Regions from separate parts of the Homo sapiens genome. Here regions 1 and 2 are each linked to region 3. Evidence: fine-mapped expression QTL. A gene starts in region 3. Each other region holds a variant in brackets. All regions are shown on one strand. Distances are from middle to middle. Region 1 overlaps PRUNE2 (prune homolog 2 with BCH domain). Region 2 overlaps PRUNE2 (prune homolog 2 with BCH domain). Region 3 holds the start of PRUNE2 (prune homolog 2 with BCH domain).

Region 1 (7,934 bases), 190 kb before region 3:
GTCTGCCGGGAGTTGGTGCTGCTGTGCAAAAGTGTGAGTTGTCGGTTTGTTTCATTGTACAGTTGCATCATGCTGGGGTCGTCGTAACTGGACTGGCTGCTTTCCCCGACGTCATCCTCCATGGAGATATTCTTACCATCTGTGTGCTCTGTCTTGAGTTCATTTTCATCCAGGTTGTGAGTGGTATTTATTTCAGAACTGTTATCTGTATGAGGTGAAGCCCACATGTCTAGGTTCCCAGGACCTGAACTGATTCGATTTCGAGATGACTGTTGCAGTGACTGAGGAGGAATGTCAGTCTCCTCTGCCGTGGAGTTACCATCTTTTGACTCAAAACCTTCCTCTTTAGCAAATGGCTTGTGTTCAGTTTCCTTTTCGTCTCCAGCAAATGTTGGTGATGTGTAAGAGTCTGAGGTGGAATAATTGGTATCTAAGGGGGAAGGCACCGAATCTTCTCCTAGGTTGGATGCACTGTAATCAGAACATTTGTAAGATAAGAAGGAATCTTCCCAAGGAACTAGGACATCTGACCCTCCTTTCTTCATATTCTCCTCAAAAAGGTTCCAGGAATCTACCTTTTCATATACCTTGCCCCTAGTTTTAGGATCCACTAAACCATTCTGATCTTCTTTTGGTGGCTTAGAATTAGTCCATGTGTGATCCAGATCAGAACTGGGATTTCCAGGTGCAAAGATGTGATCCCTGGAGTCATTGTTTTTCTTGCCCCAGATTTCTGGAGCTGCTTCATTGTTTATCTCACTGGGTGAATTGTCCAGTAGTTCTGAAGAAGAAAAGGCAAACCCACTTTTTGCCATGGCCCACTCATTCGGGTCCCTAACAGAAGGTGTCTTGCTGCTTGTTGGGTGCAAATTCCAGGTATTTTTTAAAGCTTCATCATGATCTTCTTTACCAAATGCACTCCAGGCTGGGAATGGCGCCACAGCTGCTGGTTCACCATCATCTGTAGGATTTCCCCAGGGCTCGGGCATGGCTGTGGGAGAGCGACCAGAATGCCACAAAGAAGCAAAGTCTTCTATCAGGTGGTTTGTTCCTTGGGGAGATGTATTTGGCAAAGGTGACTTCTCCATGGGCAGGTTCTGGAACGGCAAGCTTTCCTCATTTTTGTCTTGAATATCATTGCTACCCAGTTCAGGCTGACCAAATTCAGACTCCCAGGGACCTGACTTTGTAAATTCGAGGCTCTTTGGTTGAAATACAGAATCTGAGGCTCTCCTATCAATGGAGCTTGGCTTATGCTCTTTCCATGATTCAGGGCTCTGGAAAACAGATTCCTGTTCACTGGAACTCCACGCATCTGCAATATTTTTGGAGTCAATTTCCAAACCACCCCACCAGCTGCTGCACCGTGCATGGGTCTGAGGTGGCCCCATGTGACCTGTGTCAGTTGCTTTTTGGGTCATATCTTCTGTATAGAGTGAGGCTGGTTCTTCAGTGGATGGCGAGCTTTCTACTAAACTATTCATGGGTGTTGGTGGGATCCTCTTTCCAGTATTTTTTAGCCTTTCTGGGGAAGGGGATTCATCTCCCACAAAATCTGTCAGGCTCAAATTTCTTTCAGAGTTATCTCTGGGACTGTCTTGTCTCTGGACAAACTCCTCATCATGTTCCACAAGGCTATCTTTGCCAGCCCCTGACAAAAGTGAACTGGATGAATAATTAGACATGTTGGTTCCCATGCCATCAAGTCCTTCAGGCCCAGCGGGGAGCTGTCCTTCTGACAGGTCACTGTTGGGGAAGAAGTCATCTGCTGGGGAGTAGTCTGCAGAATGAGAAGATTGCTGGGACTGCCCAGAAGCCATGGGTGCTGGGTCAAAATTGAAGAGGTCGAAGTGCTCACCGTGTTCTCCAGACCATGCATGTTCCTCCGCCACCGCCCCTTCAGGGATGGGGCTGTAGGAGTCAAGCCCTGGGAGAAGGGTGTGGTGAGGCCCAGCACCTTCTCCCACGGGGCTGTCGTCACTGAGGAAAACAGAGCTCTCCTTGGATGAGCGGCTGCTCCTAATGGTAGCCAGTCCGCTGTCTGGGCTAACAAGGTCTACATTGGCATCCACCTGAGCCTGGTTAGAATCATTGAGATCTGGAGGGTTCTCTATGAAATTCACAGAGCTGGGTTGTGGCTCTATGTCAGAACCATACAATTCCATAATCCCAGAAGACCCCTGGGAGAGGGGGGCACTGCCTGCCACGGCTTCTGTTGAGGATGTCCGGCTATTGGAGACCATCTCTGGACACCTCCTGTTGATGACTTCCTTGACAACGAGAACCACCTGATCACAAGTCACTGAAGGGTCCTCTTGTTGGTACACCAGGATCTCATCACAGCCACAGTCAAAGGGCTCCAGTTCTAGGCAAGGGTTCTGACACTCTTCCAGCTCACAGCAAATCTGTCGGAAGGCACAGGAATTTGTGTCAGCACTCAAGCACTGTTGCACTTTGCAATTGCACTTTGCAATTTATCTCGCTTAATTTTTAAATATAAAATTAATCTGTGTTCATCTGTCTGAAAAAGAAGATCTCAAACTTAGAAAGTTCTGATTACTGTACCACCAACCCTTTCTCCAATTCTATCCAACTGTCTCTCTGTTTAATTCAAAATCCAGGTGCTCGATTTTGAAGGCTCCTGAACGTTTGGGTAAAGGAGTTTAAACCACCTATTCTTTCCTAACTGTAATATAATACCATCTTCCAATAGCAATGTAATTCGAGTTGCAAAAAAG[C/G]AGAGATAATGCATGTTGCTGACAACTATAGGAAAAGTGTTGGAATAAGGGGACAATATCAGGAGACAGGCTGTTGTTTGGGAGGGGGCAGCCAGGGCTGCTTGAACCTCTGATAGCTTCAGAATGCAAAAGAGAGAGTAGGAAAGACAAAGATGCTCCCGCAGTCTGATCTTTCCGAACAGCACTCAGGACCCCTCAGTCCCTTTCACCCCAGGTAACGGAGGCATGGAGCCCAAAACAGGCAAAGCTAACCTGGGAGGCAAGGGGACACTGACGGATGGTCAGTGTGAGGCCAGAACTGGGTTACGGCTTTCTGATTTTTAAGGAATGTCAGGAGTATTTTGTTGTGCTGGGCCTTTGAAATGGCCCCACGGGATTAGTAGAGATAAAATTAATAATAATAATAACAACCACCACTACCACCATGGAGCTCACATAGATACTACTACTACTACTAATTAACATTTATTGAGTGCTTTCATGTGCCAGGCATGGTTCTAAGGGTTTTATGATCATTATCTCTTTTAATCACCACAGTAATTCCACAAGGTAGGAACTCTTTTTATTCCTATTTTACCCATGAAGAAATGAAGATACAGGAAGATTAAATAACTTGTCCAGCAACACACAGCTAACAAGTGCTGGAGCCTGAGTTCTGTACCCAGGCAACCTAGCTGCAAAGGCTGACTCGGCCAGTGGTGTGACCACACAGGCCAAGAGGAACTCGCTAGGCCAGAGCCAGGACTCTGTTGCTTAAGATTCCAGCGATCCACCTCTGGCTATTGCTAGGATGGGGAGGGTGGGTGGGGAGAAGAGAGGAGGACTGGGGTCAACTCAAGAGCTTTTAACTCCTTCATCTGCTCTTCTACTTTTGTCTGTTTCCAATGAACCAATTTTCACATTGGTTTGAAAAAGGGGTCTACTGCTAAAAGTGATGTGAAAGCCGCCATGTTGTAGGCTTCCAAGGCCTAAATCCCGTCCCTGGGAAGCCAGTGACCAAAGATGAAATTTAGCTTTGAAACCAAATGCAGAGGAAAGTGATGAAAAAACCACAGGCTGGTGATGCAGGTCAGAGGAGGAGATGCTCTTTCACATTCGGACTTGAGAGAGCCCGAGAGTACCCATAGGCATGGGTCAAGAGAGCTACAGTGGAGCTCTTGGGGGACAGAAAGGAGGATGTAGAAAAGAAAGGGGCAGAGACTGTGCCTCTAGCCACCCATGGATACATAAGGCATTGAATCCATTAGTGAAGAGAAATAAGTAATGAAGCATCTGGGGCCCCGTGTGGCTCCTATTATAATGAATCATGTATGTTCTCATATTAGTTATTAAGTACACCTGGCTTGGTATATCCGATGGCCTATTTTGATTAATTTATCTAATTCTTTTTTTTTTTTATTTCCTAGGCCTTGGGTTAAAAGACTCAGCTATCAACCTGGAGGATAACTGATTACCTAGTCAGAGTTCTGGTACCTGGAGACAAACTAACTTTGATTAAAGCATCAGATCACCAGGTCTTAAACACTGGGCACCAAACCGGTCCTGGGACAGGGGCTAAACCTTGTCAGTTATGATCAGGGAGCAGTCCTAGAAGAAAATAGCACCCAAAGGAGAACTTGCTCTTTTGGGAATGAGAAAGAGCTAATGTTTTGCACTATGGATTCAGTCAAGAAGAGAAATGCTTTTGGGGCTTTCTTAAAAGGCCAAATGTAAAAAGTACCCCCATCATTTCCTAAAACTCAAACCTCTAGGACTCTACCTCTTGGGCTAATTGCTCATGAGCCACCAATCTGTTCTGTCTTGCACTGTGTGTTCTGAGAGCCAGCAGGTTAGGACAGAGGGAACATGACGGGGTCAGAGGAGGGGCTCACCTGACTGCACAGCTCCATGTTTTCTGAGTACACAGCAATCTGTCGTCTCGGCTGCTGCTCCTCTGACAGATAGCTGGAGAACAGGATGAGGACATCAAAACCAAACTTGTCTGTAAATGCTTTCAAGTCACTGGTAATATTGCTGTGAAATAGACAATTCTGAAACGACAACAGGAAATTTGATATTAATGTCAAACTGCCCAGCTGCGGGGAGTTGTTCCACAAATTTGTCCAGTCTTATGATGTATTTAGGAGAGATATTTATTATTTAAGGCAAGTGAAATACAGTTTGCTTTGAGAAGGAGTGGAAACTTTCATGCTATGGCTTAAAATACACTTTGCTTGTTTGTTTTCCCAAACCATGTAAGAAAGGAGTTTTTGCCATTATTAATAATAGTTTAGACAAAGAACAGATATCCTAAACATTTTTTTCTAAAATATTTATTCAGATGCTTAATTTGCAAATCCTATTTTCCCTCTTGTCGCTTATAGGATCTATATACGAATGTCTGCTATTGTTACAATTTATCACAATAAGAATAGGAGGAAGTTATTTCTTCCTGTATTTTTTTTCTAATGATTATTATTAACTCCAAGGAGAAATTCCTACGAATCAACATAGCTGAGTTTACTGGGTGATCTTTATTCCAGTGTAGAATTCTGGGAGATTTTTAAAAGAGCTGTGATGTCAGATTTGCTTGTTCTATGTGGCAGCTGTGGAGGAATGAATAATTGCAGAAAGGGATCCCAATACCTCAGATTACCCAGATGTGGCTCATATCATTTGCAAAAATGTTCTGGCTGCTTCAAGTTTTATTTACTGTATGTATGTACTTATTTATTTATTTTTGAGACAGGGTCTCACACTGTCACCCAGGCTGGAGTGCTGTGGCGTTATCTCGGCTCACTGCAACCTATGCCTCCTGGGCTCAAGCAATCCTCCCAGTTCAGCCTCCCAAGTAGCTGGGGCTACAGGTGTGTATCACCATGCCCAGCTAATTTATTGTATTTTTTTGTAGGCGTCAGGTTCTGCCATTTTGCCCAGGCTGGTCTCGAACTCCTGGGCTCAACTGATCCACCCACTTCATCCTTGCAAAGTGCTGGGCTTACAGGCGTAAGACCGCACCCGGTCCGGTCTTTGAGTTTTATTAACTACAATGAGAGCCACTTTCTCTGTGTGGGTGTCTCTCTTCCTTAAAGAAGTACAGTGAAGAACATATGCTAGCCCCTAACATAATGCCTGGCATATACTAGTTGTTCAAGAAATGTTTGTCGGATGACTGGAGAGACAGGTACACAAAATCAACCTGTGCTCCATCATCCATAATCTTCTATCATAGTCCACATATATATCTATCCTAGCACATATATGATCATACCACATAATTCATCAACTGACAGTCTATTGTGTCACTCAACAAAAAACACCATGATGTGCACTCAAGGGATTTAAAAGATTCTGTTCATTTTTTCTGATTATAATAGCAATCAGAATTATGCCTGTCATGGGTAAGATACTAAAACAACACAGAAATGTGTACCACAGAAAGTGGAAGTGCCACACACATCTCCTAGGACAGCCACTGTGAAGATGTGAACGATGCCGTGCAGAGAGTTGCAGATTTCCCCATACCCACATTAATGTCTATGTGGTCATTCTTTGAAACTCGTGGATTGGGTATTTGTGGCTTAGACTATTTACCAGCCACTTCAAAAAGCCATCATACCCGTACTCTGTAATTCTGCTGAGTTGAATCTCAAGGTCTGTGAGGCTCTGAAGAGGGCACACAAGACCCTGGGTAGGTAGGCAGGCAGGCCCCGCCCATCACGGGCTTCCATGTTTCGAGGAGGCTTTGCTGTCTACTCCAAGGCAGCCACTCTCATCTGGCATCTTACTGGGCCACTTTCCCTTTTTTGGTTGCAAGGAATTGCACATACGAATCCACAAAGGTCTCAGGATCTATTCTCATGCTGATGAACATCAAGGATCTATTGTAATGACATTTATGATCATATAAGTCATATGCGTTTGGAACATATGCTTTTGGAAGTGTGTGTTCCAAAGTGTGTACTGTCAGCTTTCATGCTTTTTATTTATTTTCCAAATGGCCTAATAACAATCTTTAAGTAGATGTTTAAAAAATTAATTCATCCACAATAGAAAGACATTAAATATTTAAAAGGAGATTTTTTAAATAATCAAAACTCATATACAATGTGTGTTCAACAGATAAAATTATTTCAAACCATCATTGAGGGTGAATCAAGAACCTCATTGCTAAACTTGTAGCAACTATGAACTGTAAAAAAAGATATAGCCCTGAAAAAAATAAAAAGAGACTACAACTAACTACAACTTATTTCCAGTAACTGAAGGCTTCAGCACAATAAGCCTTACAGTTTTCCTTTCTAAGTATTTTTCGTTATGTATATAAAGGCCTCCAAATACATTTATAAACCCTTGAAAGAAGACACACATTTCTAAGAGATTTTTACATATAACAAAATTCTCACTACACTCCTGGCCGGGTCACTGAAACAAGAGGGGGCAGGTTTTATTTGTATCTGAGCATAAGATTAAGAATCAGTAGAATCAACACTGTTCAAAGCCACACTTGTGGAAAGTTTCCTATTCAAAAATGCCGGCTGATCTCCAAACTGTTTTAATTCTTCTGTGTTAAACTGATGGCTCTAGGACCTCGATGGACTCAAGTCCAAAAGCATTGGCAACACCAGGCATCTTGTTGGAAATGCAGAGTCTCCGGCAAAACACTAGACCTATTGAAGCAGGATCTGCATTTTCCAACAATCCTAGGAATTGGAATGCACGTTGAAATCTGAAAAGCACTACTCCAGAGAGGGATTTATTAGTTGATATATTTTCCTACAAACCAGTCCTTTGGACTCTCTCAGCACTGTCACAGGACTTGTACTGACTCACACTGCCAGCTCTTTGTTCCTATGGCAACCTCATCATAAAAGTCCCCTTAGGGTGTGCGTTTCTGGGCCGATTTGCTACAGGTTCTCATTTAGCAGGTTGGGCACTGGATCAAGACTATATTTTCTTTTTCTTTATTTTTTTTTCAGAATGGTATAGGTATGTTTATTTTTAATTTAATTTAATTTTTAAAATTTTGTTTTAAGTCCTGGGATACATGTGCAGAATGCGCAGGTTTGTTACATAGGTATATGTGTGCCATGGTGGTTTGCTGCACCTATTGACCCATCATCTAGATTCCCTCCCCTCGCCCCCCAACCCCCCAACAGGCCCCAGTGTGTGCTGTTCCCCTCCCTGTGTCCATGTGTTCTCATTGTTCAACTCCCA
Region 2 (7,934 bases), 200 kb before region 3:
CCCCTTGAGGAGTGCCTTCATAAGCCCCTTCTGTCATTAAAACATTTTTTAAAAATTTATTTTATAACTTTGTTGGTATAAAGACAAATCCACTTGAAAGTATAATAATTTTTTCTTCTGACTATAAAAGAAAATATTCTCATGGGCTCCTTAAAGTATCATGGGCCCTGGGCACTCTGTCTCCTGTGTCTGACAGAGAATAAGCCATTCCTGCTGCCTGCTCCATAAAGGCGCCCGAAACAGATATCTCTCCTCTTATTTCCTCACTTGTATAATTCTTGTCTCGCAGGGTTGCCCTATGTAAAGTGAAATAGCGCAGAGTGCTTAACACCTGGTCCAACAGCAAATAGCCTGTAGTTAGTACCCATTTTATACTTAAACTGACATTGGGCATTGACTAGCTTGACTTAAATATTACACTGCTATCTACCTTTTTACTTATGTCTAACTCTTTAGTTAAACTGTAAACTCCTAGACGGCTGACAGTATGTTTTAAACCAGTGGTTCTCAAGCTTTGGAGGGCATCAGGAGTTGCTGAAGCTCAGCTGGCTGGGCCTCACCCCCAGAGTTCCTGATTCCGGAGGTCTGAGTCGGAGCCGATAATTTGCATTTCTAACAAGTACTCAGGTGATACTGATGCTGCTGTTCTTAGGACCCCACTTAGAGAACCACAGTTTTAGACAACTCTTTATTCTCCCAAAATCTAGCACAGAGGGAGACTTACACATTCACAGTAAATTATTTATGCAAAAGATAATACACATGCCGGAGGGAAAATCTGCCCCATCCCCATTGTGAGAAAAGTTTCAGTACTACAAAAGCTGAGCAGAAAGGGATGAGCAAAGAAATCTTGTTGAAAGAAAAGGTGCTGGTGGCACAATTGAACACTGACTGTCATCTGTTGGATCTCGGGGCATGTGCAAAATGCACACAAGAAGCCAAACAATAGCTCAGCCAACTCATGGCTGCCTGAGTTCTGAGCTCAATCTATAACAATGCCAGCAGGGCTGCTGGGATCCATCTGCTACTCTCTTTCTGATAACGGATCTGGGGTCTCTCTGGAAGAAAATAGCTTGACAGGAAGAAAGAAGGATTAGGCCAGCTGACAATGTCTGGATTTATGAAGCTGCCCTGGAATATGGTAGAGCTTTTAACCCCTTCTGCACTTGGCTAATCCTCAACATACCCCAGCTATTCTTTCCATTGTCCTTGTTCCTTTCATCAAGAAATGTAATTTGTGAATGCCAAAGCTCCCCTGGACACATTCTGTTTCCACACAAATTAAGTTCCCAGAATTTAATACTGCAGGAAGCCTTGAGATCTTTCAGCCCAACTCACTAATTTTACGCATGAGAAAACCTAAGCCTGGGATTAATCCTAAAATGTATAATCAGTCATGGTAGAGGCAGGCTGGAATCCAGATTCCTTGACTCACTGTGGGTATGTGATGTGTATAGTCCTTTACACTCCCAAGCTGAGTAGCAAAAATATATCTTTTCTCGCTTTTTTTTTTTTTTGAGACGGAGTCTGGCTCTGTCACTCAGGCTGGAGTGCAGTCACACGATCTCGGCTCACTGCAACCTCCACCTCCCAGGTTCAAGCAATTCTCCTGTCTCAGCCTCCCAAGTAGCTGGGATTACAGGTGCTGCCACCACCCCAGCTAAGTTTTGAATTTTTAGTAGAGACGGGGTTTCACCATGTTAGCCAGGGTGGTTTCAAACTCCTGACCTCAAGTGATCCACTCACCTTGGGCTCCCAAGGTGTTGGGATTACAGGTATGAACCACCGCACCTGGCCGATATCTTTTCTCTATTACATTTTAAGGAGAAAACATGACTTTCCCCGTTACTTAAGTTACTTTTCACAATTTGTTCTTTTGTCCCTGGAAGCAGGTGGGCTTCATAAACACAAATGAAGAGAAATGAAGAATGCTAAACAGTTTCAGCAGAGACTGGAAGCTTGAGGGCAGTGATGACATCCTATTCCCTGATATATGCCCATTGGCTACCCAGAACCACGGCACAGAGCAAGCTCTCAAAAACCACATGGTGAATGAATGAATGAATGAATCACTGATTTAATGACAGTTTGCCAATTTCTCTGCCAATTAGGGAATGAATGTGTTACACTGAGATTTGGAGACTGCTGTGGAGCCTGTCTCTTATCTAACTATAAGTTAGGTGCTTACATAAAACCAGAAAATGCCTTGTATTTGAAAATATGAAAATGCCTCTGTATGCTAAGCGGTGTGTCAACTGAGAAAGTACAGGCTTTGGAGGTGGCAAGCTTCGAATCCCAGGTGTTCACTCTGGTTACTTAATTCTAGGCAAATTATAGAAAATTTCTGAGCCTTGAATCCCCCTACTCAACCCTACTCCTTCCATTCCCCCCACTGGCATGTTAGGATTAAATGAGATAATGTATGCAAACTGCCTTGCACATAGTAGGTGCTGATTAAATGTTAGTGTCACTTCCTTGTATTCCCAACTGCCTGTTGAAGAGTCATGTAGGTATTCAAGTAGGTGGGGTGGCAGTTGGGGGGTAGGTATAAGACTGAATGAAAATTGAAGGGGCTTTTTGGCTGAAAATGTACATAAATTATCATTATGGTTATAGTTATCTAGTAGCTGCTTTTACTGATGGTGTGCCTTGCATTCAATATAAGCAAAGCTGCTATCATCCAGGTATTCCTCATATTCCATAACCTCTAACCATTTCCCAGGTTTCTAAATAAATTGCTTTTCAGGAAAAAAAATAAATCTAGCTTTTTGCTTACCCATTTGGTCTTGATATCCTGGTTCCGAGCTCAAGGAACTCTGTCTCCTCCTCCATTTCCGTGTCAGGGATCATGTTTTTCTGAACAGGCTGTGGTGAAAGCATTTCCCATTCATTGTCATGGGTGACAGCCTGCAACGTAACTGCATCCGGGCCAGCCCTGCCTCGGCTCTTACTCTTCTGTGATTGGCTGACTGGACCAGAGGCTTCCTCTAGTGCCAAAGATTCTAGAGGCTTCATTTCTTCCAGAATCTGCAGCTGGGGACCCTCACCCAAGCCGAGTTCAGAGAACGGCTCCACAGTCTTGCCAGACCACCCAGGCCCTGAGTCCCTGGCATCCAGTGATGGATCACCAACCTCACTATGGCCCAAGAACATCCAACTCTGGTCTTGTGCAGGGCTTTCAAAAGATGATCTCGTATCGCTTTTAGAAGACATTTTCTCTGCAGAGAGACCTTTTCTTTCATTTAAGGAGGCTGGCTGACATGTGTCTGGGAAGCTTGCTAACTGAGTTCCCTGCAGCCCTGTTTCTTTGGAACCTACATACAATTCTAATTCAGCTATGCTTTCTCTTTCTTCACAGGTCTCTGGCTTTGAGTGTGAATTTTCTTCACGGTTTACAAGTATGTAATCCATGTGTAGTGCATGACGATCTTCATTCTTCTCTGTACATCTTTCTTCCTTGTATTCTGATTTTATCTGCTCAGGCTCTTTGGTAGGAATTGTTTTTTCTTCTTCCAATTCTGATATTTCCTTGCTGGCACCTAGAAGTGGAAGTTGAAAGTGAGAAGAGGAGAAAAAGGTTTAATTAACACATTGTGTGATTTGTGATCCTTGCAAATGATCATCTAAAAGAGGTAATTTAATATTTTTTATATATTTTATTTATTTATTCATTCATTCATTTGAGACAGAGTCCCGCTCTGTCACCCAGGATAGAGTGCAATGGTGTGATCTCGGCTCACTGCAACCTCCACCTCCTGGTTTCAAGCTATTCTTCTGCCTCAGCCTCCCGAGTAGCTGGGACTACAGGCACCTGCCCCCACGCCCAGCTAATTTTTGTATTTTTAGTAGACATGGGGTTTCACCATGCTGCCCAGGCTGGTCTCGAACACCTGACATCAGGTGATCCCCCCTCCTTGGCCTCCCAAAGTGCTGAGATTACAGGCGTGAGCCACCGCGCCCAGCTAGAAAATATTTTTATTTTGTAGAGTCATTCGATTTTCTCGTGCACTATCAGGAATAGGTATTACATATGCACTAGATTTTACTGCTGTTATAATACAGGACTTAGTGAGGCATGCCTTGAAAATGTAGTTAGTTTTCTCTCTACCCTCATTGGTAGGAAGAGTGTGTCTTACAAATATGCACTAGTTTAATCAACGCAGCAGTTTCTTGGAAGTGGAAGAATGGAATGTTTCTTACCATTTGGTGGTCCTATGTCTCCACCTGCTGGTAAATCAGAATTATCTGTTTCTACTTCCCAGTCAACGTTTGATGGAGACAAAATGTTGGAGCCTGCTCCTACCGGCAAATAAACGGACTCAGGGTCTTCACGAATATGCAGCACAGCCAGCTGGGATCCAGGCAGTCTGTTTTTGGTCTCAGCCTGGTTTCCCTCACTTCTTCGATCAGGAAGTGCAGAAAGCACTATCTCTGCTGCTCTGCATCCCAGAGATTCATCCTCTGGAGACCCAGCTTCCTCTATTGTTTCAGCACTCTGGGCAGGTTCTGTGAGATAAGACAAATCAAAGGGAGGTGTGTACGGTGCCAGCGACTGCTTCAGAGAATCTTCCTCCAAAGGAGGGTCACCACCATACAGGAAGTGTTCAGGCTCTCTCAGTAAATCTTCATCGATATTCTGGCCCATTACATCATATTCAAAATCACCCCACGAGGCTTCAGATGAGCAGATATCTTGCTTCCCTAGGTCCCCATCAACTGGCGTTTCCGGATGGCCTTCGGATAATGTCAGTTTACTCATGTCATCTATTGTTCCCGTGGATGTGTTGAGACCTGAGGCATCGCTGAAACTGTGGTCAAAGGCAGCTTCGCTTATATCCAGACAAGTGTCTGAGGCTAGCAAAGCATCAGGAACCAAGGCAGGATTCTCTGTGGATAAATGTGGATCACCATCAAACAAAGCTCTTGCACCAGGCTGACTTTCAGGAGAAAAGCTGTCTGATATCCAAGAACCGTCACCTTCTGGAGTTGGCTCTTGGTGAGTTACAAAAATGCTAGTTGCCACATTTTCAATCCTTGGGATTCTTCTGTCAACTGGTTCCAAAATTGGTGCCATATCTGGGCTGGCTCCTTTTTCTGATACTTGTAAACCTGTACTGTTGTCACCGTTTATTTCAGAAGGTTCAGGTGAACCTTTATGAGAGG[C/T]GGGCTGAGAGGAGCCCTTTATGTCTGCTTGATAGCCAATTGGAGGCAGCACAGTTGCGTTTTCAGAATCGAGTTCTGCATTGGATGGGACAAACTCCCGTCCAGGCTCATAAATGGGTTCTTCATCTATCTCTGGCTCAGTGAGACAAAGCTCACTGGATTCCACTTCAGGTCCCATGCAAGCACTGAGGTGCTTCTCAGTCTCTTGCTTTGCTTCAGAATCGTGACATATATCAGGGCTGTCGGAAGCCTGAGAATTGCTGTCATGTTCGCAGTGCGTCAGGATATCAGGATTCTCACCATCTGCTTTCAAACTGAAGGGCTTCTTAGCATCTATCCACAAGTCAGGCGCGGCAGAGGCCAGCTGCCCACCCTCTTGAAAGTTGCCATGTAAAATATCTGGCACAAAGGTACCTCGGGAGTCCTCACTTGGGGTAGAGCCATCCCATTCAGAGCCTGGCTTCATTATCAGTTGGGTGGGAGAACTGACAGCAGGAAAATTTTCTGTGGCAATGCTTGAATTTGTCATCTCACCTAGGTATGATTTTTCTTGTTCCCACTGATTTGTTTCTTGACCTTCATTAGTTGAAACATTAGATGTAACACAACTATTTTCCTCTGCGTGAGTAAAGGCTGTGTCCGGATGATCACAGACTGGCAGCATGGTGTCCTGACACTGCTCTTGGGTAGGTGTTTCAGGAGTCAGCTCATCACCAGCAGCAGACACAAAGGTTTGCTCTCTTGAGTCCTTTTCTTTAATTTGGTCTAATTTTACAAGCTGGCTGAACTTGTCAGCATCTGGGTCTGGCTGCCTTGGTTGAATGTTCCAGAGTTGCTCATGGGAGTTCTTCCCATTACCTTCCAGAAAGGGTGACTGATGGTTGTCACTAAAAGGATTAGTATAGTGTGTTTCCACGGGCTCAATATCACCCTGAACTGGTACTCCCCAGGGACTGGCATTTTGGTGTACTGAAGAATTTATCTCCAACACACCACTGGAGTCAGACAGCTCCCTTTCAAATGGACTTTCAATTAGTCTCCCTTCCTGGGGTGAGGCCTTCCACCACTCAGTGCTATCAGCTGAGAAGCCCAGCATTTCCAGTTGAGAATTATCTTCGTTCTTTGGGAACGAAGCTTTGGGAGATATTTGCCATGCAACATCTCCTGTTGTCCCTGTTTCTGGAGAAGATCTCTTCTCCTTCTCCACTGCTGTAATCTGCATTTCAGTCTCCGTTAATGGTGAGAAAGTCCAGGGATCAGGGCTGCTTTGTTGATTGTCACAGAATGGGTTTGACTTATTCTCATTCTCTGCTGGCTCTGAGCTGTCTAGGTAGTCATAAATATTTTCAGACTTAGGATCAGCTGTGACCAAGAACTTATTAGATTCATTCAATGAATCCCAAGCTCTGGATTCATCCTCAGCAACGTGGCAGTTGGCCACCTGGATCTCTTCCTCTATTGACTCTTCACCACCGACACTGTCATCATCAGAACCTGAGCTTGTTGAAATGACCCTGGCATCCTCTGGCTGCACAGTTGCAGAAATGTCATGTTCATTTTTCTCCTGGTAGCTAGCAATTAGATTGCTTTCCTGATGTGTCCCTGAATGTTCAGAATATTTGCCTGTTTCAGGACTGGATAAAGAGGAAAAGGAATCACCATCAACTGAGTCATTCCAGATCTCTAAAAATGTAGGAGTTTTGCGATCAAAGCTCTTTTCAAACTCATTTATTCTGTTTTTCTCTAAATCCTTCACTTTGGTAACTATTTCTACTTGGCCATCAGTGGTAATTAGTTCAGATTCTTGGTGATTCTGTTCACTCCAGTTGCCTTGGTTTTCTTCTTGATACCCAGAACTGGGTTGCTGGCCCCAGGAGGACAGTGCAACTGAAGAGTCATTTAACTCAGGACTTGATGCACTTGAATGAGTATACTCACTAGAAATAGTATCTCTGTCAAAATTTCCAGACGAACCGGCTCCTGGAAGGCTATTTTCAGACCCCTTAACGTCAAGATTTTTGGTTATCTCAGAACATGTGCTGCTGACATGCACATCACTGTCTATAGGGACGTCCCCAAAATCAAGACTTCGGGGAACTCTGTGAGGTGGCCCTCCACCCACGTTCTCTGGCTCTAGAAAGTTACATTCTTCAGTTTTCTCAAGATCCTTTTCAGGTACAGATACATATTTTGTGAAATTCATCCCATCTGAAGTCTCAGTAGTTTCACCTGAATTTCTTTGACTCATGAGGTGTTTTTCATGGGTATCTTTTGGCTGCAGGTTATCTGCGGACATCCCTGTTTGCACATCACGGGAGTCTAGATTGTAAGACCCCTCCTCATACTCTAAAACTTCCTCTGGTTCCTCGGTTTGAGGACTGAAAGTGACAGCAAGAGAGCTGATTTTGCCTGATTTAATGCAGATTTCCTGATGTTCAGATGCAACCAGAGAAGACAGTTCCTGGTCACTCTGCCCTTTTTCAGAAATCCCTGAGGCATTCTCCACACCAGAGGCGATCACCTCCTCTTCATCAAGGTGCCCCCTGTCAGTGGCTCCCTGGGCTTCCTTCTCACTTTCACTTTGTCCATCGCCATGACCTTTCCATGGATCTGGGTGTGGAAAATACCCTGGATTCTCAAGCCTAGTCGCCAAGGATGCTGCATCACTTTGCAGGGTTTCCCTCTCTGTGTCCTGCTTGTCAAGATGAGATATAAGTGCCTCTGATTCACTGGTTCCAGAGGCTGCTGGCGCATCTGGGGAATGAGTGTCT
Region 3 (7,934 bases):
TGTGCCCTGTATCTTGCTGGTGACAGCTGACAACATCCCCACCCCCGCCACCCAAGGCTGGCTCCTGACCTACATCATAGGGCATGAGGGCTGCGGTGATCTCCACCCATTAACAGCTGCTTGAGTTGCATCACCTGGGGGGGTCTGGGCAGTGAGGGAGGCTCAGCAGCAGAGGCCCAGTGTGGGGAGCCTGGCTTCCTGCCAGCCAGAGCCTCAGAACTCTCTACCCATCCCCAGATGATTCCTCATGTACTTCATTTTTTCCCCCCAAACTTCATGGGAACATGGACCATTTACTGCCATGAGACTGTCCTTGTCCTGAATACTTTCCTGAGCTGACCACTATGAAGTTGAGGGTCATTTCCCAAATCACAGCATAGAGCAGGGAGCCCTCATTCCCTACACTCCTTCAACTTCTCTTACCATAGAAATGATGTAACTAAGAACAGAAAGCATGGCTAAAACTTAAGGACTGATCTGGAATATAGGATTTGATTTCTGCAACTCTGAATGGGCAGGAGAAAAAAGAAAATACGTTTGCACTCTCTCTAGTTTTGGTAGTAAGTATCCAGACCAAAAATATGGCTGGGTTCTCACATCAAGGAAGTGATTTCAACTAGGAAGCGCCACTCTTTGATTACGATCTCAAGCTTGCGGGGCTTGCTCTCAGATTGCTTATCCTACTGTTATTATTGCTTTAACAATCCTCGTGTCAATTCCATATGTGTCATTCCTTGTTTGTCTAGAAGGGAGCATTTCTGGAGACTGCTTGGAAGAAGTAACTACCTCCCTAGCCGTGCCCCACCTCCAACCAAGTTTTTCACAAATATGCTCCAGCCCCCAGCCTGTCCTAACCAGGCAGAAGTCAGGCCCACATGAGAAGCATTTGAGCCCCAGGAGGAGGGATGCCTCTGAGGCCACACCTGGAGTTTACTTTTGCCATTTCTGATAAATACTGAGTATTCTCAGGAGGGAGGGAAAGGTATTAGAAAGGGAGATTTAGGGAAAAGGAGGATGGGATTATGTCAGTGAATCTGCCTCAATTTAAAGAGTAGTAGGGCCAGACTGGGATTAAAAATAGAATTGAGAGTGATCTCCTAACTTATTGGAAATCAGCTCCAAACTACCTGATAAAAATTCAAAATATCCTTTTCTTTCAAAGACTTCTGTTCAACCTAGGGGCCTGGCCTAGAATAGCAGAGTTTCCTCTCTCCTTACAATGACAGATGAATAATAAATGTTCCCAGTCAGAAAAAAAGACACACAATTTTTCCAACATTTTGATTATTGGAGATTATATCTATGGCTAATAGCAATTCCATTTTGCAATTTAAAGTTCTTTTTGCCTATTGGAATTAGCTAGCCCCAATGATGATGAGGTTATGTTAGGACTTTGGAGGAGTCATTAACTATTTCAAACCATTAAAAAATATATATAATGCCCACAGAATAACAAAGCAATTAAGCCAAATAGGAAAAAAAAAAACCAAACTAGTAATTAGGCTTTTTTGTTTGTTTGTTTAGGTATCATATAGCTAAACTTCTAAAGAAAAACATTTAAAACATAGCTCCTACATTCTAATTCTGGTCTAATAAGGCTTAAGTAAAAATCAGCATGGTAAATTTCTTCACCTTAAAATGTTTTCCAAAGGATTGGCTGAATTTTTAAAAATCTTACTATTTTATTTTATTTTATTTTATTTTTGAGACTGAGTCTCGCTCTGTTGCCCAGGCTGGAGTGCAGTGGCACAATCTCGACTCACTGCAACCTCCGCCTCCGAGGTTCAAGTGATTCTCCTGCCTCTGCCCCCCTAGTAGCTGGGATTACAGGCACACGCCACCATGCCTGGCTAACTTTTGTACTTTTAGTAGAGATGAGGTTTCACCATGTTGGCCAGGCTGGTTTCGAACTCCTGACCTCAGGTGATCCACCCGCCTCAGCCTCCCAAAGTGCTGGGATTACAGGCGTGAGCCACCACACCCGGCCAAATCTTACCTTTTTATTATAAATAAATTTCCCACAAGTGAATGACATTGACTTAATTCTTTTTCTCCAAGAAAAAGGTTATCTACCCTCTAAAGGAGAATGTTATCTACTACTATATTTGAGTGTCATACATTAAGTAAAAATCTTATTACCTAGAAAATGTAACTTCTCAGGAAAATATGACACTAAAAGTGACCAACACACCTTTGCTGTGGCTGGATGTGAAAGGTTAATCATGATTTCTAGAAGAAGCTTATTCCAAGAAACGATAAAATTAGCAGTAATTGTTCTGGCTAAGACATGAAACTGGTAACAATATTTCAAACAACCGCTTCTCTTTCCTGTCCTTTTTTTTTTAATGATGTAGAGCAATTGCTCGTCTAATGAAGGGTAAATAAATTACAGATTACTTTCAACTCATTACTCGGAAATAGGGAAACTTCCATTCCAGCAACTGCTCCTCAGAATTGAGACAAACCTCTTGCTCATATCAGACCCCACAGTCTAAATGTTTATTGTGAAAATATTGATAAATAAATGTTATGGGAGTGAAAAACAGATACAGCCCAGAACTCTGTGTTTGTCATTGATTACCATTTTCATACACACACACGCACAGTTGCCAAAATTGTCTTTCATTTTTGAACATTTCTCCTTCATTACTAGGTAAAGAACAGAACATGTACTTATACTATCAGAAATGCCAAATACTTACTTGAGTTTCTGAAATTAGTATTTTCATCCATGTGCTCTAGTAAAACTATAAAAGGGTCAATAAACACAGAGATGATCACAAACTTCCTCAACTCGGAAATCTCCACAAACGTTCAACTCTCTGGGAGGTTTCAGGTAGAAAGTTTTATATAAGCACTTATCAACTTTAATGGTCTTTTACAAGATAGTTACAGTTAGACCATTGTAAGGATCACACTTCCGTCTGCACTCTGAATGGTGGTTCAGGCATCTTTGGGCCCTCCCTTCCTGCACTCCCTTTGTTGTGCGAGGGTAAATGAGTTACAGTAATAACCCTGCAAATATCCTGCCTTGTGATTAAAACATTACCTTAATGCAGACTTTACATTTTGGCTTCTATGAAGGCTTAAAGGTTAAAGGCATCATAAATTATGCATTTCTTTCTATGCCAGGCCTGTAAAAGGTGCTTTTACAGTTCTTTAAAGATATTGCTTCTAAATGAGTACAGGCTTTTCTTTTTTTTTCTGCCAAAACAGAAACATTTCCATTATGTTTATTACTGCTGTGCTGGAGAGCCAAAACAGTTTGGAATTAAGAAACTGCTAGAGTCTGTTGTTTCAGAATGTGTAGCAACTGTTAACATACACAGTGGAGTTGCCCATTCACTGTTTGGACAGTGATATGGTAAACATGGGCTAACACACAGGTCTGCTCCCGGGAGAACGATGATCTGGTAAACTCCAGAACACCAACAGTTAGAGCTTTCCCCTTCTGCCTCCGCCCCAATTTACAGATGTGAACAGGAATTAGCGAGACACAAGACACACTAGAATATCCCTAACTCCTGCAGTGGAGCAAGCTCTATTCTGTGGATTCTCCAGTACCACACATGTCCTTGCTACCCAGCACCCTGACTTCCTCACTTTTGTCACCTCCAGCTGAAGTACAGTTCTAAGGGTCTCTTTTTTTCCTTTTACACTTACACGTAATGCATCTGCAGAAGGCTGGGCTCTTTATCTCAAGGAAGACCACACCCATTTATCCCTTAGCTTTCAGGAGCAAACTGCTGATTTAGGGACCGAAGCTGGACTGAAGCGACCCAACTTCAGCCAGGCCACAACCTCCTTCAGCTCTGCACCTCGTCTGGTTGCGGTGGAGGATTCTGGAGACAGATTGCCAGCTTTAAGAGCCAGAGTTCCTGAGATTTCTTCCAGGAGACAACCCGCACACCCTGATAACTCCGTGGCAAAGTTGTTTCTTCCTCCTCTGCTGCAACACCTTTTCCTCTCCACCTTTCCATTAGCATACGCGCGCGCGCACACACACAGCTTTGCTCACTCAACTTACCAGTTTAGATTTGGCGCGTTGCAAAAATTCTTCCATGTCGTGGCTAGGGGTTTGGAACCCGGGTACTCGGAGGGGCGCAGTGGAAAATCTCGGCCCAAGGAAGACGAGCGGGGTCCCGGGAAAGTGGCCCGCCGGGGCGCAGCGACCGACTGCTCCCTCCTGCCGCTCTGAGGCGGCTGCGGCGGAGGCTGTGCTTGCGCCCTCGACCGTCTCGCCCAGGGCTCCCCGCCCCACCCCTCGCCCGGCCGCCGGCTCTGGGCACCCGACTCTGCCCTAATAAGGAAAGTGGGTGTGCCGCCCAGGAGCCCCGGGGCGCGCCGGGCACGCTCTCTGGCACGCGCCTCGGGCGCCGTGGCGCGTGGGCGGAGGTGCAGGGGTATGGCGAGGGGCTCCTCCGCCAATCGCAGGGCCGTGCTGCGGCCTCCTGACGTGGCGCGCCGAAAGCTGCTGCAACCATGGACAGCGCCCAGAAGTGCGAGCCAAGTGCAAGGGGCTGCTGCAGAGGGAGGCTCTGCCGCAGGCACCGCCGCGGTCAGCGGGGGAAGGTGGGAAGAGGGAGACGGGTCCCAGGAGAGCCCCCGCCTCGCCCAGCGCCTCACTGGCTGGCTGGCGCGTTACGGAGCACTCCGGCGGTCACTTAATGATCTGGTCGGCTGGCCTGGCCGGGGGAGGCACTCAGCTAGATTGGCGTGGGAGGGACGAGGAGAGAAAGAGGGGAGTTACTGCTGAGCTAAAAGCAGTACGACCTTGATGGATAATAATCAGAAGAGCAGGCTAGGAGGTTGGGCGAGGCTGCGTCTTTCCTCCCTACCATGAAAACATGTCCACACAACAATGGGCATCCACAGTTCACCCCAACTAGGTGCCCTTATGTCAGCCCTGGGACTAATGCATAGATACATCCTTCTGCAGTTCCCATCCACTGACATGTACCCTCAGGGAAAGCTGGGGCAATAGAACCTTGCTAAGGTGAGGTGCAGTCTGCAGACCGGCAACATCAGCATCGCTGATCTTATAGAAATGCAGAACCTCAGTCCCCTGCTCCTACTTACCAAATCAGAATCTGTGTGTTTCTATGAGACCCTCAGATGATTTCTATGCTTGTTAAAGTTTAAGAAGTACTACAATGAACAAATGAACTTATATCTACAAACCTTATTTTAAATCATGGGGTTTTGTTGTATGTAGCCTTGTCCGGTCCCCAAACACACTACATCAGGCTTTCTCTGACCTCTGGGCTTTTGCACACCACCTGTAAGATCCTTCCAGCCCTTGTCCTAGCCCCCAGCCTCAGCTGTTCTACAGAAGTAGCCTCAACCCTGACTGCACAGTAAAATCACATCGTAATCACCTGAGACTTGAGAAAGTACTGATACCAGGGCTTTATCCCAGTCCAATTAAATTAATATCTCTGGGCATGGGGCCACAGCATTTCTGTGGAAAGTGACCCAAGTGATTCTAATGTGCAGTTCAGGTGTGATGCTCTGATTCTCGATGAACTTTACATGTATCTAAATCACTTAGAGGGCTTGATGAAACACAGATTTCCGTGCCCCATCCTTAGAATTTTAGCCCTAATAGGTGTGGCTTAATGGGCCTGAGAATGTCCATGTATACAATCTCCCAGGGTTTGCCGATGCTGCTGATCCAAAAACCACACTTTGACAGTGAGTGGCGTAGAAGTTCTCTTTCTCCAGAAAGCCTCCCCAACACACTTTTCCCTTCCCATCCCCAGACTGAGTTGGTTGCCCCTTCTGTATTCCCTCATAGCAACTTACATTTTCCACTCTGCTATAAATTGCATAATTATTTGTCTATGTCCTCCACCAGGCTGTGAGCTCTGTAAAGACAGGGACCTTGCCTGTCTCATTCACTGATGGAACCCTAACATGATGTATGTTCATGTCATATACAGGTCCTCAATAAATATGTTTTAATGAAAAAAGGTACATATGGAAGGGTTTTTTTTTTTTTTGCTCTATTTCTCCTGTCTCAATGTGTGTCTGTTTTCTTGTCTGTCTCTGTGTGTATATGTGTGTCTCATGATCCAATTATTTTTTATTCAGAAGGATCCAATGAAAACAAATCAGCAGGGTCCACAGATCTGATTAAAGGAGAGTGATAAGAATATTAAGCTCCAGGTGACATTCAGGGGTGGGCTTTGTGGAAGCTGGAGATTCTGTCTGCTTTCTGTACTGACTTAAGTAATTTAAAACCAACCAGGTAAAGCAAGTATTTTGTCAGCCTTTAAATCTGTGAAGTTGCACACAATTCAAGTAACATTACTGAGAAAAATTCTAGAGAATGCCTTGCCTCTGACTTCACTGGGGAATTTAGCACCAATTACATAATACTGTTTTATTCCTCTAGCTTTGGCTTATAAATATTCTAGGTAGGTATCACACATCCTTGAAATGTTAAAAAAAAATTCTGATGGACTCAAATTCCAACATCAATCTCCCCATCTTTTTCTCCACCAATAATGTCCCTTCAAAAGTTTATCAAAATTAACATTTTCTATGAAACCTTCCTAAGCTGACCACCTATATTAGCTTCCTGGGGCTGTTTTAACAGAATCTCACAAATTCAGTGGCTTGAAACAACATAAATGTATTACCTTACAGTTATGTAGGTCAAAAGTCCTACACAGGTCTCATTGGGCAAGCAAGGTATCAACAGAGCTACATTCTTTTTTAGAGGCTCTAGGGGACAATCGACTAGAAGCTGCCCATGTTTTTTGACTTGTGGCATCTTCCTCCATCTGTTTTTTTCTTTCTTTCTTTCTTTCTTTTTTTTCGAGATGGAGTTTCCCTCTAGTACCCCAGGCTGGAGTGGAATGGCACAACCTGGGTTCACTGCAACCCCTGCCTCCCGGGTTCAAGCTATTCTCCTGCCTCAGCCTCTCGAGTAGCTGGGATTACAGATGCGCACCACCATGCCCAGCTAATTTTTGTATTTTTAGTAGAGACAGGTTTCACCATGTTGGCCAGGCTGGTCTGGAACTCCAGACCTCAAGTGATCTGCCCGCCTCGGCCTCTCAAAGTGCTAGGATTACAGGCATGAGCTGCCGCGCCCAGACTTACTCCATCTTCAAAGCCAGCAACATTTCATTTCTCTGACTGTTCTTCTAACCTCCTTTTCCACTTTTTAGGGGCCCTTGTGTTTACATTGGGCCTATTTGGTTAATCCAGGATAATCTCCCCCATTTCAAGGTCAGTTCATTAGCAACCTTAATTTCATCTGAAAACTTAATTCCCTTTGCCATGTAACCTAACATACTCATAGGTTCTAAGGATTAGGTTGTAGACATCTTTGGGAGGTCATTTTTCTGCATACACCACAAACCATACATGATGTTATTTGGTAGCTATCGGCATTTGATCCTCCAATTTTTATGATTCCATAGCAGCCAGAAATCTAGTGACTTTAACTCTAGGTAAGATATTGTCAACCCTGGCTGCACAGTGGAATCACCTGGGAGCCTCCAAAAAAACAAACTAATGTTCCAAGCTCCATCTCTGGAACATTAAAACAGAACAATTCAGAACAGAAATTCTGAATTGAGCGATCTTGAGAGGGGCCCAGGCATCAATATTTTTTCAAAGCTCTCCAGGTAATTCTCCGTGTAGTCAGGGTTGGGAACTACTGCTGATGTTAGATGAATTCGCATTCCTCAGTCACTCAGGTACAAAACCTGGAGTTCCCTTTGATTTACTACACTCTGCCACCCACTGTGGCCAAATAGTCCCCAGTCCAAAGTGTTCAAACTTTAAAAAAGCCTCCTTCAACTTCCTTTCTTTCTATTCCAAGCACTACGATCGTAATTTATGTATTTGTATCTGAACCTCATTTCACCCTCTTCTCTCTAGAGTCCCTTGTCCTTGTTGGCAGAACAATCCCATTTCCT

What was found.
Region 1: its variant is fine-mapped to the expression of PRUNE2 in lymphoblastoid cells (GTEx, PIP above 0.99).
Region 2: its variant is fine-mapped to the expression of PRUNE2 in whole blood (TOPMed, PIP above 0.99).

The regions. Positions count from the first base shown.
Region 1 is chr9:76,708,954-76,716,887 of GRCh38, forward strand. PRUNE2 (prune homolog 2 with BCH domain) reads right to left here. Exons shown (of 19, transcript NM_015225.3): 7 at 4,610-4,768; 8 at 1-2,405. Among named protein-coding and RNA genes, the nearest start is that of PCA3, 52 kb to the right of the region's middle. The variant C/G (reference allele first, on the strand shown) is at 2,739.
Region 2 is chr9:76,700,561-76,708,494 of GRCh38, forward strand. PRUNE2 (prune homolog 2 with BCH domain) reads right to left here. Exons shown (of 19, transcript NM_015225.3): 8 at 4,201-7,934; 9 at 2,777-3,539. Among named protein-coding and RNA genes, the nearest start is that of PCA3, 60 kb to the right of the region's middle. The variant C/T (reference allele first, on the strand shown) is at 5,164.
Region 3 is chr9:76,901,901-76,909,834 of GRCh38, forward strand. It overlaps PRUNE2 (prune homolog 2 with BCH domain), which reads right to left and starts at 4,214. Exons shown (of 19, transcript NM_015225.3): 1 at 4,028-4,214. The coding sequence starts at 4,063. RefSeq lists a silencer at 4,284-4,343.